3 linked regions of the Homo sapiens genome follow. The protein of the gene in region 2 interacts with the protein of the main gene of each other region in a pairwise test. Each region holds a gene or a part of one and is shown on either strand. Other genes may lie near its edges.

What was found.
Region 1: the proteins of ZBTB25 (region 2) and KCTD1 interact in binary tests that used the Homo sapiens proteins (3 or more experiments, as listed by UniProt).
Region 3: the proteins of ZBTB25 (region 2) and APIP interact in binary tests that used the Homo sapiens proteins (3 or more experiments, as listed by UniProt).

Annotation. Positions count from the first base shown.
Region 1 is NC_000018.10:26,454,431-26,461,556, reverse strand, and holds the end of KCTD1 (BTB/POZ domain-containing protein KCTD1), read left to right. Parts: intron 1-1,631; coding exon 1,632-1,937; intron 1,938-5,655; coding exon 5,656-5,814; 3' UTR 5,815-6,647; downstream 6,648-7,126. UniProt on the Homo sapiens protein: May repress the transcriptional activity of AP-2 family members, including TFAP2A, TFAP2B and TFAP2C to various extent.
Region 2 is NC_000014.9:64,493,826-64,500,951, forward strand, and holds part of ZBTB25 (zinc finger and BTB domain-containing protein 25), read right to left. Parts: intron 6,629-7,126; exon of another isoform or gene 5,616-6,628; intron 4,168-5,615; exon of another isoform or gene 4,108-4,167; intron 1,735-4,107; exon of another isoform or gene 1,418-1,734; intron 1-1,417. UniProt on the Homo sapiens protein: May be involved in transcriptional regulation.
Region 3 is NC_000011.10:34,881,685-34,885,395, forward strand, and holds the end of APIP (methylthioribulose-1-phosphate dehydratase), read right to left. Parts: intron 1,821-3,711; coding exon 1,653-1,820; intron 1,133-1,652; coding exon 1,033-1,132; 3' UTR 611-1,032; downstream 1-610. UniProt on the Homo sapiens protein: Catalyzes the dehydration of methylthioribulose-1-phosphate (MTRu-1-P) into 2,3-diketo-5-methylthiopentyl-1-phosphate (DK-MTP-1-P).

The sequences.
Region 1 (7,126 bases), on a different chromosome or scaffold from region 2:
CCCCGGTTCTGCCCTGTCTTAAGAGTGGCCACACCTCAGCCTAGTTTTCAGCTCCTTAAAGCAAAACAGTATCTCCTCTGGGTCAGGAGGCTAAGCAGGTAGAACATGTGCAAGGAAGATTTTCAGAGCAGTGGGCTCCTTTCCTGCAGGGAACCAAGACTCCTGTGGTAAGGGGGTTGCCAGGAAAAGGACAGAATAAAGCAGCAGCCCATTCCACTGAGATGAGTGTCGTCATCAGCATCTTCTACCTGATCTGAGTTTCTTTATATGGAAAGTGGATTACCCAGCTAAAGACCCCCAAGTACTGTCATCTCTCCATGCTGTTTTCTCTGGAAGCGTTGAATAATGCCGCTACAGCTGCTGCTGCTATTGCTTGATTTGCAAGAGAAAGAGCAAAGTGCAAAATAAAAATATTTATCCCATGGTCATCTTGTGCTTCTCATACTCTAGCCCATCTGGACATCAGGGGCCTCTTTGAGGCACTCGGACCACATGTTTGCAACATTGGCTGTCATGCAGGCACTGGGCATCCCCTGCCAGCTCTTGCCCATGGACGGAAGGCACAAATGCCTGTGTCAGCTGATTAAAATGTTCTCAGTCAACATGTCTAGACAAGTATCCACTTATCTTACACCCAGAAATGATTGTGGCCATAGCTACGTTTAGCCATAACATTGACCTGCTTGTTAACATTGTTCCTGAGTTGCTGCCTCCCCCTCATTCTCTTTTGTCTTCCCATTCAGTGGCTTATGTGTGTGTTTTAATACCTGTTTTGTTAGGTTTCTGTTTCAATTCAACAGATTATTTTAAGGCTGGAGGAAAGGAAACCATGCCAAAAGACCAGGTGTTCTTGCTTTCAGAAATGCAGAAATGGACAGGTTTTCTTTATTGCACATCTTGCAGGAGTCGAGGCCTAAAGTTGTTTATGTCTCTGACTCTATGATGGCAGCTCCATCAGGTGGCACAGGGCAGTACACTAGCCTTCCAGCTGTCCACCAGCCTCCCCCAAACCATCACAAATCAACACCTAGGTTCAAGTAAAAGCCACATGCCTGCCCTCCAGGTGCCCATCCCTGCCTGTCTCTAGCCTCATATCTCTGTCCCACACCCTCCTGTGGCCACCAAAGGTGACCGGGAGCTTCTGATGAAGGGTGCCCATTGGCAAGCTTATGCCTCCCCTTGGTCAATATATGCGTTCCATCCAAGAGGATAGAAATTGGGTTCTCACCGACACAATCAAACTTGAAATACCCAAAGACATTTTTTCTACTAAAAGAAACAAGTCTTGGGTGAATCCTTTCACATCTCAGTTTTCTCATCTGCAAAATGGGAATAATAGTGGTTCCTAATTCACTGGGCATTGACGAGGGTTACAGGATTTAAATCATGTAAAGCACTTAGAAGAGGCCTGACCAGCCCTAATCTACTCAGCTCCTTTTATCTTCACTGAATGAATGAATGAATGAATGAATGCAAATTGAGCCTCTACAAACATGTCGTAAGTGAAAAACGCACATGCAGATTTGATTAGTGACATAACAAGAAGTGGAAAAAAATCACCTCTTAGATGTGGACATGTTTAGTACTTTATGTTTGCAGTTTGCACTGTGAAATACCTTTTTTTTTTCCAGGACTACACTTTGTTATATGAAGAGGCAAAATATTTTCAGCTTCAGCCCATGTTGTTGGAGATGGAAAGATGGAAGCAGGACAGAGAAACTGGTCGATTTTCAAGGCCCTGTGAGTGCCTCGTCGTGCGTGTGGCCCCAGACCTCGGAGAAAGGATCACGCTAAGCGGTGACAAATCCTTGATAGAAGAAGTATTTCCAGAGATCGGCGACGTGATGTGTAACTCTGTCAATGCAGGCTGGAATCACGACTCGACGCACGTCATCAGGTTTCCACTAAATGGCTACTGTCACCTCAACTCAGTCCAGGTATAGCATTGTTACGCACTGTGTGGCATCAAATGCCACTCTTACTGTTGTCACTTAACCTTGCCCTCACATGGTGCCTTTCCTCCAAAGAGCTTAGAAACTCACTCAGTGACACTTCTGTTGGGTAGGTGAATTATCACCCTCTATAGCAGTCATTCCGTAAGTCTTGTGATTGTGCCAGGTGCTGGGATGAGCACTGGAGATACAGAAGAGACAGATATAGAACACGACAGCTGGGCACGGTGGCACACGCCTATAGTCCCAGCCACTCCAGAGGCTAAGGCAGGAGGATCACTTGAGCCCAGGAGTTCAGGTTCAGCCTGGGCAACATAGTGAGACAGACAGACACAGAACACGATGGACAGCTCTGTGTTCATGGAACTGCATTATGGGAGTGGAGTGGGAGGCAAACAGTCAACATAAATATATTGCCCAGGAGGTGGTAAGTGGATTTCTGGGGCAGAGTATGCTGGCATATTGAGGACTATCAGGAAAGCCAGTTTGGCTTGAAGAAAGTGACTCAGGGAGAGAGAGTACCCAGACAGGAGGCCCGGGAAAATCAGGGACAGATCACGGAGAGCCTCGTTAGGAGGTGGCAAGTGCCCTAGGATTGTTTATTTTGGCATCTTTTGGTTTTGGTTCGTTTGTGTATGTGAGCCAAATGGAAATCCATTGGAGGGTTTTGAGCAGAAGGGAGAACTGACAGAACTCGTATTTTAAAGTGAACATTGCGACAGCAGCTAGAGAATAGGAGAAACAAGGAGACCAGGCAGCAAGCTGTGGTTCAAGCAGCTGAAAAGTGTCCAGTTGTGTGTGTCTGGAGGGTAGAGCTAATAAGGTTTTCTGACGATGGCTGTGGGTTGTGAGACATAAGCCCGGGATGACTAAGATTTTTGACAGAGGAACTGGGTGAGTGGAACTGCCATTTCCTGAGATGGAGAAGTGTAGGGGAGCAAGAGATGTGGGGGTGGAATTGAGAACTCAGAGGCTAATGTGTGCTGAGCACCGACTCTCTGCCCTACCCTGGGCCATGGCCTGAGCATGTGTTGTCTTCTTACAACCCTAACAGGTAAGCACTGTTAATCCTCTCTGTCTTGCTGATGGGAAGGCAGAGGCACACCTGGGTCTCGATTCCAGCTCCGTGTGACACAAAACCATTTGAAGTCAATGGAGTGAGGGTTCTAGTTTTTTCCCTCTTTTTAACTGGAATGGGCCCATGACTTTGTTCAGTATTTAGTCAGCAGAACCCTTCCCAAAGCACAGAGACTAGAAGCACCCACTCTTCTGTGCTGCCTCTTGAGGATTGTTCCACTACTATTTATAACTCTTTAAAATATATGAACAGATGTCTGAGAACAGAAGAGCAGAAAACTGGCAGAAAATGTTCCCTAAGCATGCTAGCGGAAGGCACATGCTCCCAGGCGGCGGGCTGGCTGCTGGGTCGCAGGGTTCCCGAGGACGAGATTCGCGTTCTCACCTGTGCGGAGAGCGTCCCCTGGAGGTGTGTGGTGCTCCCGCATGGCCCTGCACAGCGTTCCTGAGACGGCCTCAGCAGTTTAAGCCTCTTTAAAGCCCAGAAAGCCTGTCCCCTTCCACACAACAGCCTGCCCTGGCTATCACTGGAGCAGACAGAGGGGCAGAACCATTCAGAGCCAGGACAGGAAGGCCTCGGCCACACCTTTGGGCCAGTGAATAACGATCATCAATTCATGTGCTTGACAGTTTCCCACATCAGATATGGAAATTTTCATCTGGATTAACGTGGTCATATGACACAGCCATGACCTACCCTTGCGTCCTGCTCCACCGACCAAGAAATAGGCACCAGCCTATGGGCACGCAGAGACTCTGGGATAAGGCTTACGACACCCGATACCTCACTAAGTTGTTGTGTGATCACTGTTTAAGGAACTTTGCTGTGAACGTGTTGTTGTTTCCAAAGTAATGGCTCCATCAGCTGTTTGCATTACATTGAAATAAGCTTTTGACCACATCCAAGGTAACATTGGATCACATTGAATAATTATCACATGATGCCTATCGGACTCCGAAGAAGAGCTTAGCGATTTCCTCCTGTTAGCATTTAGTGACCTTAAGACTCAAAGAAAAATGGACATCAGGGTTAGGTTCTCTGCTGTTCATGGCTTCCTCCCCTTTGGATTTCCTCTCCTAATCATGGCAAGGGATCTTTTCCAGGGTGCTGGTTTGGCCAAGCAAGCTGGGATGCCTCTTGCTGAGGGCTGCATTCCTGCCTCTGCTGGGGAATCCATGGAGGGAGCTGTTCTTCGTCTTTGTATTTACCTGCCACCAAAGCACATCTTGATTTTGAATTTAGGGATTGTTTTCTTCCTGTCCTTATGCTGACAGGTATGCATATGCATTGTGAATTTACCTACAGAAATAGAGCACTGCTGGGTAGAATGTTAATTTTGTTCTTATAAGGACTTGTGTATGTTTTTTTAATTTGCCAGCACTTGAGGTTTTAATTAATTTTTAGAAAACATACTCTCTTGCTTTCCCATCTCATCTAGTAAGCTGTTTTGCAACATAGCAGACTATATTCTATATTGAAGTAGGCAACTAAAAAATAATACTTTTTAAAAAAGTAAGGATTCACTTTACATTGACTACATTTCAGTTCATTCCAATAAAAGTTTTTTTGAGGTGGGTTTTTTTGTTTTGTTTTTTTTTTTTAAGTTATGATTGAATCACTTTGCCTTTAAGGTGGTGTGGAAGTAATTTAATTATATTCAGAACTCGGGCAGGAAACATTTGCAAGTCTAATATTTGTTGGATTCCTAAAGAAACAGAATGCTCCAGATCAGTTTCCTGTATTTTTGTCTATCTAATCTAAGAGTCACAGGTACTGTTTCCTGCATTTAACAGTGTCAGACATGTAGTGCCAAACCCAGGAATCTTGCTGGCGTTAGGTTTTTGATTTCAAAATTAAGGAACAGATTCTATGGCTTACATTTGTATAAGAAGTTTAGAATATCTTTATTTTTCTTACATTTTCTAATATGTAATCATTGTGCTGGTTCTTGTCTCCTTGAATGAATGCAGGGCAATAAATCTGTTTCAGATGTTACAAACTTGAAAACCTGTAGATAATCCTCTAGTGTCTTCAGTAATCCCTTTGTTCTGCTATTGAAATTACATCAATCTTCCAGGCCAAAACATATATATTAACTCGGTATTAGGAAAACTTGAACAAAGGCGGAGTTGAGAGTACAAATGAATCACTGACTAAGTAAACTCTGCCATCACTGTCCTTTCCAGATTCTTTATCATCTCATAGGATGTATTTTAGTGATAAATGAGCTTTGAAATGTGAACCCTCATTTTTGACAGAGAGGGCAGCATTGCATATACAAAAACAGGAGATTTGAGGCCAAACAGACCTGAGTTGGAAACCCAGTCCCATCACTGACTAGCCATGAACCTCAGTTTTCTCATTTATAAAATGGGCCTAACACCATCGAGTGTTGTAGCTGGTGTGTGTAAAGCAAGCATGAAAGGCACATTTTAGGCATTAGAAATGCTTGCTTCCTCTCTCCTGCCCATTAATCCAGGGTCTTCCTTTGAGAGGAGCAGCTCACAGGGACATGGGTGCTGGATGAGATGAACCAGAGTGCGCATAATCTCAAACTTTGGGGTGTTTATGTAGCCATAGGACTTACCTCACCCCTAACTGGATGCTTGTCTTGTTCCCTCGCAGGTCCTCGAGAGGTTGCAGCAAAGAGGATTTGAAATCGTGGGCTCCTGTGGGGGAGGAGTAGACTCGTCCCAGTTCAGCGAATACGTCCTTCGGCGGGAACTGAGGCGGACGCCCCGTGTACCCTCCGTCATCCGGATAAAGCAAGAGCCTCTGGACTAAATGGACATATTTCTTATGCAAAAAGGAAAACACACACAACCAATAACTCAAACAAAAAAGGGACATTTATGTGCAGTTGGGACAGCAAACCAAGTCCTGGACGTAAAATCGAATAAAAGACACATTTATATCCAATAGAGACCACACCTGTATTCATATGGGAACAATTGGAATAGTGATATCCTCAAGGTGTAAAAAATATATAAATATATATATATATGTCAAAAGGTAGGAAATGCAAAAAAGAAAAAAAAAAAAGGTGACAGCCGCAGTTGGTGCTGTGATGGCCGTGAAGTGTCCTGGGCCTTCCGAGGCCTCTGACAAATAAACAAGCCATGAGTGGTGAGGACACAGTCTCCTTACAGTTTCCATTGCCAACAACAGCCATCCATATTTCTTTTTTCCTTTGTCTTTCTTTTTCCTTTTTTTTTAAAAAAACAAAACAAACAAAACACCTTGAATCAAGTTTGTTTGTATATGGAGGTTCCACGTCTTTCTTTAGGCAGGGACCAGGCAGGACTTCAGAAAAACCCTCATGAGCACATTGCAAAGATGTTAGACATGAAATTTTAAATGTAGTTTGTACAGAAGTCACACTTTTTTGTCCACCTCACAGATGTGAACTTTACTTTGTTTTAAAACTGATCAGTTTTGCCAAGGGGCCAGAATTATTCCTTGTTAGAATTGCTCCAGTTCAAGTCTGCTGCTTTCCTACAATTTTTCAAATTTTATAATGTATTAAATACAATAAACTCTGTTTAAAAAATAAGGTCTGTGTGAAACACACATGTGGGGGTGAGGCTGGATTAAAGTGAAATTTTTTCTTTTTGAAATTGTCCGTGTTGAGCATCAAAAAGAGGCATGAAAGCCGGGGTCAGTTTTGAAGTCAAAACCTACTAAAGGCTAAGGATGTCATCACCTGTTCCAGACAGTTGTCTTCCGACCCAGCAAATGTTATTTCCTGTGCTTTGTTATTCTGCATTGGTCAGCAAGGTAAATCTTCCTTCTTACGGACTTTTCGGTTACACCTATTTCAGTTATCTGGCTGCAGAGCAAGTCACACCAAAATTTAATGGCTTAAAACATTTTGTTCTGGCCTGTGATACTGGCCTTCGCTGGGCTGCATCTGCTCCATGTCTGCTCCACTGCTCCAATCCAGGGGTCTGATTGGCGTGGAATGTCCTAGATGGCTCACCCAGATGGCTGCAAATACTTGGCTGTTGGCCTCTATGTGGCTTGGGCCCCTCTCAACATGGTAAGTGGATTCCAAGAAGGAGGCAGAGAAAGCCACAGTTCTCTAAAAGCCTGGGCC
Region 2 (7,126 bases):
GGTTCTGAGACCCCACCTCAAAAAAAAAAAAAAGAAGAAGAAGAATAGGGGTTTCACTTCAGACACTCTGAGCTCCAAGTGTCTACCAGGTATCTAAGTAGAAATGTTTAGTGATCAGCGGGGACAAGAAGCAGGACAGGGCTCTAGAGAGAGCAGAGCCAGAGAGGGAGAAGAGGCCTCTGAAACGACAAGGCTGAAGTAACCAAGTATGAAAATAATAAAGTAGACTAAAAAGTAGAATGAAATAAGAGGGAAAAAAGCTAAGAATGAATCTTTGGAAAACAGAAAAGACAAAATAAGACAGAGGAGGAGAAAAAAGAAAACATCGTCATTGAGGAAAGGCAATGACCTTGCAGAAAGGAGATGGCAATGGTGCAAAACACTGAAGAGAAACATGGGGGTGAGGCCCATTACAAACATGTCGAGTGTACTGACCAAAAGATTCCTGGTAACCTCTGACAATAGTACAGGAAAGCAGCAAGGGCCAAATATCTGACTGCAGGGGATATTAGAAACCAGAGGCTAGGCCAAGCGCAGTGGCCCACGCCTGTAATCCCAGCCCTTTGGGAGGACAAGGTGAGTGGACCACTTGAGGCCAGGAGTTTGAGACCAACCTGAACAACATGGTGAGACCCCGTCTCTACTCAAAATACAAAAATTAGCCAGGTGTGGTAGCACATGCCTGTAATCCCAGCTACTTGGGAGGTTGAGGCAGAAGAATCACTTGAACCCAGGAGGCAGAGGTTGCAGTGAGCTGAGATCCACTGCACTCCAGCCTGGGCAACAGAGCGAGACTCTGTCTCAAAAAAAAATAAAAAAATAAAAATAAAGAAACCAGAGGGTATAAAGCTTAGACACAGACATGACAGGACAGGACATTAAGGAAGCTGCAGATCAGAAGACCCAAACATACCTCTTCCCTTTACATATGAAAGAAACCTGGAGTAATAAACTCTGAAACTTACATAGAGCACTGAAGTTTACAGAGAACTTTCATATACAATAACTTATTTCTCTACTTCAGATTAGATAATTTCTATTAATCTATCCTCAAATTAAATGACTTATCTGTCATATCTGATCTGTTAAATCTATTCAAGATTGTTTCAGATATTGTATTTTCAGATGTAAAATTTTCATTTCATTCTTTTTTAAAGTTTCTAATTCTCTGCTGAGATTTCCTATTTGTTCACATATACAACATTTTGCTTTACATCCTTGAGCATAGTTATAATAGCTGCTGCTTTAAATCTTCTCTGCTAAATCCAACCTTTGGCTAATTATGGGGTCAGTCTCCACTGATTAGGGTGATTGTTTCTGGATTATAGTCTAGGTATTGTGATTAATACAATTCACTCTAGATTCTGTAATATTCTTCCAAAGAGTGTTTGTGTTTTTGTTTTTTGCAGACAATTACCTTAGCTGGACTTAAACTCCAAGTTCTGCCTCCCCTATGGTGGACAGCAGCTGAAATCTCTGCTCCTTTAGCCTTAAGTGTGCTGTTTGGAGGCTGCTCCACACATGTACAGTTGAGGGGTTTGCAAGAAATTCAAGCAGAGTTTATAAACAGTGTTTGGGGTTCTGCCACTCCAACATTCTTTCTAGGATTTTCTCCTGCACTTTCCAGCTGCATGATCACTGTGAGCTCTGTCCTCTTTTCTTCAAGAGAGATTACAGGTTGTTATTACAGTTGTAGCCACCTCTTCATATCACCAGCTGGGACCTTATGCCAGTCTAAAAGCCATAAAAACAGAAGCTTATTCATTGCTGTTCTCCTCTTCCAGTTGCAGACCTCAATCTAGTTTTTGTAATTCTCAAATGCCATCTATTAATTTTTAAAACTTTTATCAGCTGGGCGTAGTGGCTCATGCCTGTAATCCCAGAACTTTGGGAGGCAGAGGCGGGCAGATCACCTGAGGTCGGGAGTTCGAGACCAGCCTGGCCAACATGGAGAAACCCCATCTCTACTAAAAATACAAAATTAGCGGGTGTGGTGGCACATGCCTGTAATCCCAGCTACTCTGGAGGCTGAGGCAGGTGAACTGCTTGAACCTGGGAGGCAGAGGTTGCGGTAAGCTGAGATCACGCTACTGCACTCCAACCTGGGCAACAAGAGCGAAACTCCATCTCAAAAGGAAAAAAAAAAAAAGTGTATCAAGTTTATAGTTATCTGCAGGAAACTGTCCTGATAGGAACTATTCAACCATTACCCCCTCCCCCAACATTGTGTTCTTTTTAAACGAAAGCAATTTATTAGAAAATAAATAAAAGAATGGCTACTCCATAGGCAGAGCAGCCCTACTCAACCATTACTGTTTATCAGCAGTTCTAAAAAGCTGTGGTCTCAAGATCCACTCACACTCTAAAAAGTATTACAGACCAGTCACGGTGGCTCACGCCTGTAATCCCAGCACTTTGGGAGGCCAAGGCAGGCGGATCACAAGGTCAGGAGTTCAAGACCAGCCTGGCCAACATGGTGAAACCCCGTCTCTACTAAAAATACAAAAAAAAAAGCTGGGCACAGTGGCGTGTGCCTGTAATCCCAGCTACTCGGGAGGCTGAGGCAGGAGAACTGTTTGAACCGGGACCTGGGAGGAAGAGGTTGCAGTGAGCCGAGATCACACCACTGCATTCCAGCCTGGGCTACAGAGCGAGACTCCATCTCAAAAAAAAAGTATTAGAGATTGTGAAGAGCTGTTGTTTATATAGGTTATATTTATCAATATTTACTATATTCAAAATTAAAAGAAATTTTAAAATATTTAAAATAGCAATAAACCCATTACATATTAACATATTTTTTCCTAAAAAATTTTTCAAAAACAAGTGAGAAGGGTGATATTAATTTACATTTTGCAATCCTCTTTAATATCTGGCTTTAACAGATACAGCTGGACTCTCTTATCTGATTCTGCATTCAATCTGTTGTCATCTCTTGTTTTGGTTCAAGTATATTGAGAATCTGTTCTTACATAAGGGAGATCCTTATTGACCCATGAAACCTCCAGTGGCTCCTTGGACTACACTTTGAGAACCACTGCCCTACACTATCTTTTTTTCTTTTAAATCTTGTGAGGTAGTAGAGCAGGTACTATCAGCTCTATTTTATGGCTGAGAAACCACAGGCTCAGAGAAGGCAGGAAACATACCTGAAGTCAAACAACTAGCTATTAAATGGTGCTGATAATACATCAAGACTGAGTTTAAACCCAGGGCCCTTTCTTCAAAACCCCATCTAGAACTTTCAACATTTACACTGTTGGCAGATTTTGCAAATATGTTGAATCAAATAAGGGAGTAAACTTTTCAAGTGTATAAAATGAAACAAATTAAAATCTATTAAAAAAAAAACACCAAGTACACATGAGGTGCATTCAAACTTGTTTTGCATAATAGGAGATCTTTGATGTTGTAATATACCAGATTTTACTTCAAATCAATAGCCCCATTCCATTGAGTTATTAGAACATTTTCTAATACAACCTACTCTGCAAATTATTAGCTAGACTTTTTGTATAGCCTTTGCTCATCATTCTTTGACTGTCTATTTTATTTTCTCTAGTATGTGAAATAGCTAAAGTTTCCCATGAATACAGAAAGAGCTTAGAAGTTACATTTGAGAATTTCTGGTGAGAATTTTAAGATGTGAGAGAAATTATGGAAAAATAAAGTATTTTATTATACTTATAAATACCAGAATCAAAATATGAGTGCTACATTTTTAAAAGTTTTATCTGTTATCAAAGTGATACATTATCATAATAGTTTTAGCATTGATATTTAAGAGATTACAAAAACCTTCTTTACCTTCTAGATTGTAGTAACTCTGGATTACTTCAAATTAAGATGGAACAACTTTATACTAGTATCTATGTTTGTTTAAAGCTGGCTTGATATTCAATACATATCTTTGATTCTTATGTATTTAGAAAAATCTACTGTACTAGACTGGACTCTCAGATCTATGGTAGCCAGCCGGATATCCTGGACTACACAGCTCTTCATTCTCTCAGGCTGTAAGAATCCTTAATAAAAAAGGAACAAAAAGAGCAAGACGACTGTTTCTGTAGGAAAACAGTCTTAGGTATTTTCTCTGTCAATGCTTACCACTGAGACTTTATGATGAATTTTCATTCAGACAAGGAGACAGGAAAGTTGGCAGAGGAATATGTACATCTTTTTTGAGCTACTTACTCATGGCTATAAATACAAAGGCAAAAGCAAAATATTTCAAGTGCCATATGATAAAAGACTTTATATAGCGACTAACTTTTTAATGGAACTTTCACATGACTGTAGAGGTGTGACATTTAATTATGTAGAGAATGAAACAATGTTTGTAGAAATCATTTTATCCTGAAACAGAGGTTCTTATTGCTGACTATACTGTAAAACCTTCTATGCAGAGCTGTATTGATGTCTGAGTCCCAACCCAGGCTTAGCCCAAACAGAATTGAATTGCTAGGGGTGAGGCACAGATTCTTTTTTTTTTTTTTTTGAGACAGAGTCTCGCTCTGTCGCCCAGGCTGCAGGCTGGAGTGCAATGGCGCGATCTCGGCTCAATGCAACCTCCGCCTCCTGGGTTCAAGTGCTTCTCCCGGACTCAGCCTCCTGAGTAGCTGGGATTACAGGTGCCCATCACGCCTGGCTAATTTTTATATTTTTAGTAGAGATGGGGTTTCGCCACGTTGGCCAGGCTGGTCTTGAACTCCTGACCTCAGGCGATCCGCCTGCCTTGGCCTCCCAAAGTGCTGGGATTACAGGCGTAGGCCACTGTTCCCGGCCAGATTGTTTATTTGTTTATTTATTTTTATTTTTATTTTTTTGAGACAGAGTCTCACTCTGTTGCCCAGGCTGGAGTGCAGTGGCACGATCTCGGCTCACTGCAAGCTCCGCCTCCCGGGTTCGCGCCATTCTCCTGCCTCAGCCTCCCGAGTAGCTGGGACTACAGGCGCCCACCACCACACCCAGCTAATTTTTTTGTATTTTTAGTCGAGACGGGGTTTCACTGTGTTAGCCAGGATGGTCTCGATTTCCTGACCTCATGATCCACCCGCCTCGGCCTCCCAAAGTGCTGTGATTACAGGCGTGAGCCACCGCGCCCAGCCCAGATTCTTTTTTTAAAAAGCTTCCCAGGTGATTCTAACGTGACTGCTCAGTTAAGAACCACTGCCTCAGAAGAACACGGGACCAAGGAAACCCAAGAAATTATTTCACACTCTACAATTACATTGATATTTAAGAGACAATAAAAACTTTCTTTACTTTCTAGATTGTATAACTCTGGATTAGTTCAAACTAAGTAAGATAGAACAACTTTATACTAGTCTCTATAAATAAACAATTCCGTAAGAGTGTTCAAAGTATGGAAATTATGTTGACTACATTAAATGAACAAATATAAACAACTGTAATTCTAATTGTAACCTTAAAATATTGGCCAGATTAAGAAACAAAAGTGCTCCATGGCCAGGCATGGTGGCTCGCTCCCAGCACTTTGGGAGGCCGAGGCAGGTGGATTACCTGAGGTCGGGAGTTCGAGACCAGCCTGACCAACATGAAGAAACCCCGTCTCTACTAAAAATACAAAATTAGCCAGGTGTGGTGGCACATACCTATAATCCCGGCTACTCGGGAGGCTGAGGCGGGAGAATCGCTTGAACCCAGGAGGCAGAGGTTGTGGTGAGCTGAGATTGTGTCATTGCACTCCAGTCTGGGCAACAAGAGTGAAACTCCATCTCAAAAAAAAAAAGAAAAAGAAAAAAAAGAATCAAAAGTGCTCCTAAACTGGCAGGATGGGCATGGGTGGGGGGGTGGAGGAACACACTATTTTCAGACTTCTTTTCAAATAGTATTTAGGAAAAAGAAATATTTACTCTCTTACTCCATTACACCTAGATTGGATTTCATAACACCTAAAAATGATACAGAAATTCTAAATCTGAAAATACTGTTTGAGGTAAAATCTGCTGTAATTCCAGACATCTGCTTATTAAGATCTACTGAGAATGTTAGCAAAGAGGGTATGGAGGGGGTAGATGAAACAGGAAGAGTAGTTATGCTCTAGAAACCTTTAATGGAACTGGGAAACGTTAGTTTGGGGCCTCCTGCCTGTTGGCAGACATAGCCAACCTCCAAGCACCTCTAATTCCCATCTAACCAACATTACATTGTAGGATGCCTGATAAAGCCAAGCACACAAGAATACTAACAACAGTAAGCACAAATTGTTAATAGACCTTTAAAAAAAATCAGAACCCGGAGAAAGAAAGGAAAAGATTCCTCTCAGTCCATTAAAGACAAACCAAATTTCTAAAAGAAAAAATAAGGTACTCAAAGGACAGGAGAAAGATGGAAAATTATAATGCTAGTACAGACCTAGAATACAGTACAGGCAAGAGTAACTAAAACTTCTGGATACAAGTAAACCAATACTTCTTTCGCAATGGAAGTATACTCCCATGAACACACTACTCAAGTGGGCTAATAAAAACCTTTGCTTAAAGTGCTTGGAGATTTCAGAAAAAATAAAACATCCATGCATGACTGATTTGTAACCAGAGAAGAAATGAATTAGAAAAATATAAAAAATAACTGAACACTCTAAGCACTTTTTCTCCCAATAAAGCAAAAAAAAAAAAAAAAAAAAAAGAGAGAGAGAGAGAAAGAAAATTCCTGCTAGCAAAGGGAAAGCAGAACGGTAAATAAATGCCTATAATCCCAGCACTTTAGGAGGCCGAGGAGGGTGGATCACCTGAGGTCAGAGTTCAAGACCAGCCTGGCCAATATGGTGAAACCGTCTCTACTAAAAATACAAAAATTAGTTGGGCGTGGTGGCAGACGTCTGTAATCCCAGCTACTTGGGAGGCTGAGGCAGAAGAATTGCCAATAAGGGGGAAAAACTCAAATGTCCATGGATAGTCAAATGGATAAAGAAAACATGGACCAGGCACAGTGGCTCACACCTATAATCCCAGCACTTTGGGAGGCCAAGGTGGGCGGATCACTTGAGGTCAGGAGTTCAAGACCCGCCTGGCCAACATGGCGAAACCCTGTCTCTACTAAAAATACAAAAATTAGCCAGGTGTGGTGGCAGGCGCCTGTAATCCCAGCTACTCGGGAGGCT
Region 3 (3,711 bases), on a different chromosome or scaffold from region 2:
GCCCATCAGTGACAGAATGGATAAGGAAAATATGGTACATATACACCATGGAATATTATGCAGCCATAGAAAAGAACAAGATTATGTCTTTTGCGGGAACATGGATGGAGCTGGAGGCTATTATTCTTAGCAAACTAACACAGTAACAGAAAACCAAATACTGCATGTTCTCACTTCTAAGTGGGAGCTAAATGGCAATAACTTATGACTACAAAGAAGGAAACAACAGACACTGGGGTCTACTTGATGGCGGAGGGTGGGAGGAGGAAGAAGAGCATAAAAGATAACTATTGGATACTGAACTTAATACCCGGGTGATGTAATAATATGTACAACAAACCCCTGTGACATGTGTTTGTCTATGTAACAAACCTTCATGTGGGCCCCCAAACCTAAAATTTAAAACAATTTTAAAGAAAGGACTTTCTGATTACATCATCGGTTTGATCAAGATTTGTTTGGTTAAGGGAATTTGAGTTGATACCACCTGACCTGAATTTCACAACTGATCCCAATATAAAATGAGTGTCCTGTTGTAGACCACAGGGAAACACTAAAGCTAATAGGGGAAATCTATAAAATTATTTTGACATTAACATTGAGGGATAAATTTGGACTTAATGTTTCATATTTATTTTCTGACACCAACATTAAAACAAGAGAATGCTCATTCCACAATGAGGAAATTTTCTAATGAATTTTATTATCACCAGCATCTTTAAAAATTAAGAGGAATTCTCTGAGAGTATATATAAAAAAGAAATTAAAGGCAAATATTTTGCTGTTAAGGATTTAAAAATAAACAGAAACATAGAGTATAAAATTTTCATTTCACTGTGCCCTCATTTAAAATTATAAGAATATAAGCAAATAACATCCAATGTCAGAAGAGATTCAGGGTGACCATTTGCAGTATTTAGTGGCAAATTAGTAGCATCATGAAAAATTTCAATTCATTTAAAAAAATAGCTTTCATTTAAATAATAATTACGTTTAGCTTTATCTCTGTATATAATTAGACTTTCTTTTGGCTTAGACAATTCCATTTTCTCCAACTGGGAGCTGTGAAGGATCAAGTCCTACTTTCTTCATTGATACGGCAATATCAAATAAATAGTCATAACACTCACACCTGTAAAAGAAAAAGCAAAAAGAACCAGTGTTTATCGAAACAGAGTTCTCCAATCCTAAAGAATCACATTTCTCCTCTCTTGCAGTTAACTCTGCTTTGTTCCTAGTATGTATTTTCTCTCAATTCTAGGCCAAAATTCTATTTTTCCCTCAACATTTTTAAAACACAGAAAGGAATCATATTAAGTCATGCAACAATATTACATACCTCTCAGGAAATAAAAGAGAGTTTAAAATATACTGCCTACATAAATTTACATTTTTTTTAAACTAGATGTCACTTTCTGAAATAGAACTTTTGTAACTTGGGATCTGTGTCTTCTTCCTCTATCAACATTCCTAGAGCCTTGCCAAACAACAGCTCATCCAATCAATACTTCTTCATGAATGGATACATAATAAAAATAAAGTATCTACAAATAATGATAAACAATTTAAATTTAAACCAACTGACATACTTTGTTTTCCTTCACATTTAGCGGGTGGTAACTTGTTCCCCATGTTCTCTGATTTACACTCACATGGTTTTGGCCTTCTCCCATGTTTCCCCCCACACATATACTCCATGACGTCTGACCAGTACTGCACAGGAGTCTGGGTATTCATTCATTGCATGAGCCATTCTATCTTTGAGGTCTTTCTCCTCAGGTGTATTCTCAATAATGGGTACCACTAACATATCATCATATCTGTAAGACAAAACAAGCCATTTTTTTCCATTAAAACAAATCAAGCATTGATATGTATACAACATGTAATTTTTTCAAGTAACCAGTTAGACATGCTGTTTGTGTCTGAAAAGCCACTCCAAATTATGAACAGGATGTTGCGTGTTATTCTGTGTACCTTGTATAAACATCTCTATCAAAAGGTACCTTGGGAATGTGGCAGGCTTGGTCTAATCCTAAGCCTAAGTGGTGGAAATTTGTAAAATATACCAAAACCTAACAAAGAAATCATCAAGATCATATAAATGTTTCCTTGAAGCAGGGACAATCATAATATTTATACAAGGAGATGGCAAATGATATATTTCAGAATCAGAAGCATAGAAAAGATTAAAAATTGAATTATATATTAAGAATTTCCCAATTAATACAAAATCACTGTATTTCATTTCTGCAGAATCCCAAAGTATCTGAGATAGGCAAATCAAAAAACACAAGCATGGTTTGTGGCACTAGGACAGCAAGAATGTTCTGGAGATAACTCTTAAAGGTACGACGCTTTCAGAACATTCTCAAATCTGTAGCATTAGAACTTCTTTTACTTCCACTGTCCTCTCAGGAAATACATGTGATGAAATCAGAATGTAATATTTAAACACATAATTGTCACTGGCAAAATTAAGTCTATTCTTGCAAAAACTCAGATAAGCTTTCCTTTTTACATGAATTTCTCTTGTTTTGTTAATGTAACATCTGCTTTTTCACTACTTCTATAGTGCTAAAAACTTAAAAAAAAAAGTTCTAGCTAAAGTATTCTGCAATTGCTACTGTAGGGCAAGCACAGACTAAGTAGTCATCATGTGACTGATAACTTGGCCAACCATTATCATTAAGAGTATAGAGTTGCCCATCACTTCACTTAAGTAAAACAGAGGTAATTATAGACTATCCTTAACTATGGCTAGGTGCATTGGCTCATAGCTATAATCCCAGCACTTTGGGAAGCCAAGGCAGATGGACTGTTTGAGCTCATGAATTTAAAACCAGCCTGGCCAACATGGTGAAACCCCATCTGTACAAAAAATACAAAAATCAGCCAGGTATGGTGGTGCATGCCTGTAGTCCCACCTACTCGGAAGACTGAGGTGAGAGAATGGCTTGAGCCTGGGAGGCGGAGGTTGCATAAGACAAGATCGAGACACTACACTCTAGCCTTGGCGACAGAGCCAGACTTAGTCTCAAAAAAAAAAGAAAAAAGTATCCTTAAATATTGAAGGAATGAATTGCTAGTCTCAAATCTTTCCTAATATTGGCCGAGAGAACCATAAACATATTTTTCTCTAGCATGCACTCAATAGTCAGAAATATTTTCAGGAGCAAAATAATTTCACAGCAAAGTAAGAACTGAAAGCGAATTCAAGCCAGTCCTCCCACTTTACAAACATGACACTGATCCAGACAAGTTAAATGAGAAAGAGAGCCAGGATAGCCCTTTGACCCTCAAAGAGTATTGTTTTCACTGTACCATAGAGACATTGCTTCTGAAAGGGAGTACAATTATAATATAAAGTTATGTATATGTATACATTATACAACTATAATATATGTATACATAGTATACATGTATATTATATATATTATATATACCTATATAATGTATACCTATATATGTATAGGTATACATGTATAACTATATATGTATATATATACCTATATAACTATATATGTATATTATATATGTATAGTTATACATGTATATATAACTATACATATATAGGTGTATATATATACATATAACTATACATATAAAGGTATATATATACACATATATAGGTATATACATATACATCAATGTCAGACCACAGATATGATGGTGGTCCTATAAGATTATAATGGAGCTGAAAAACTCCAT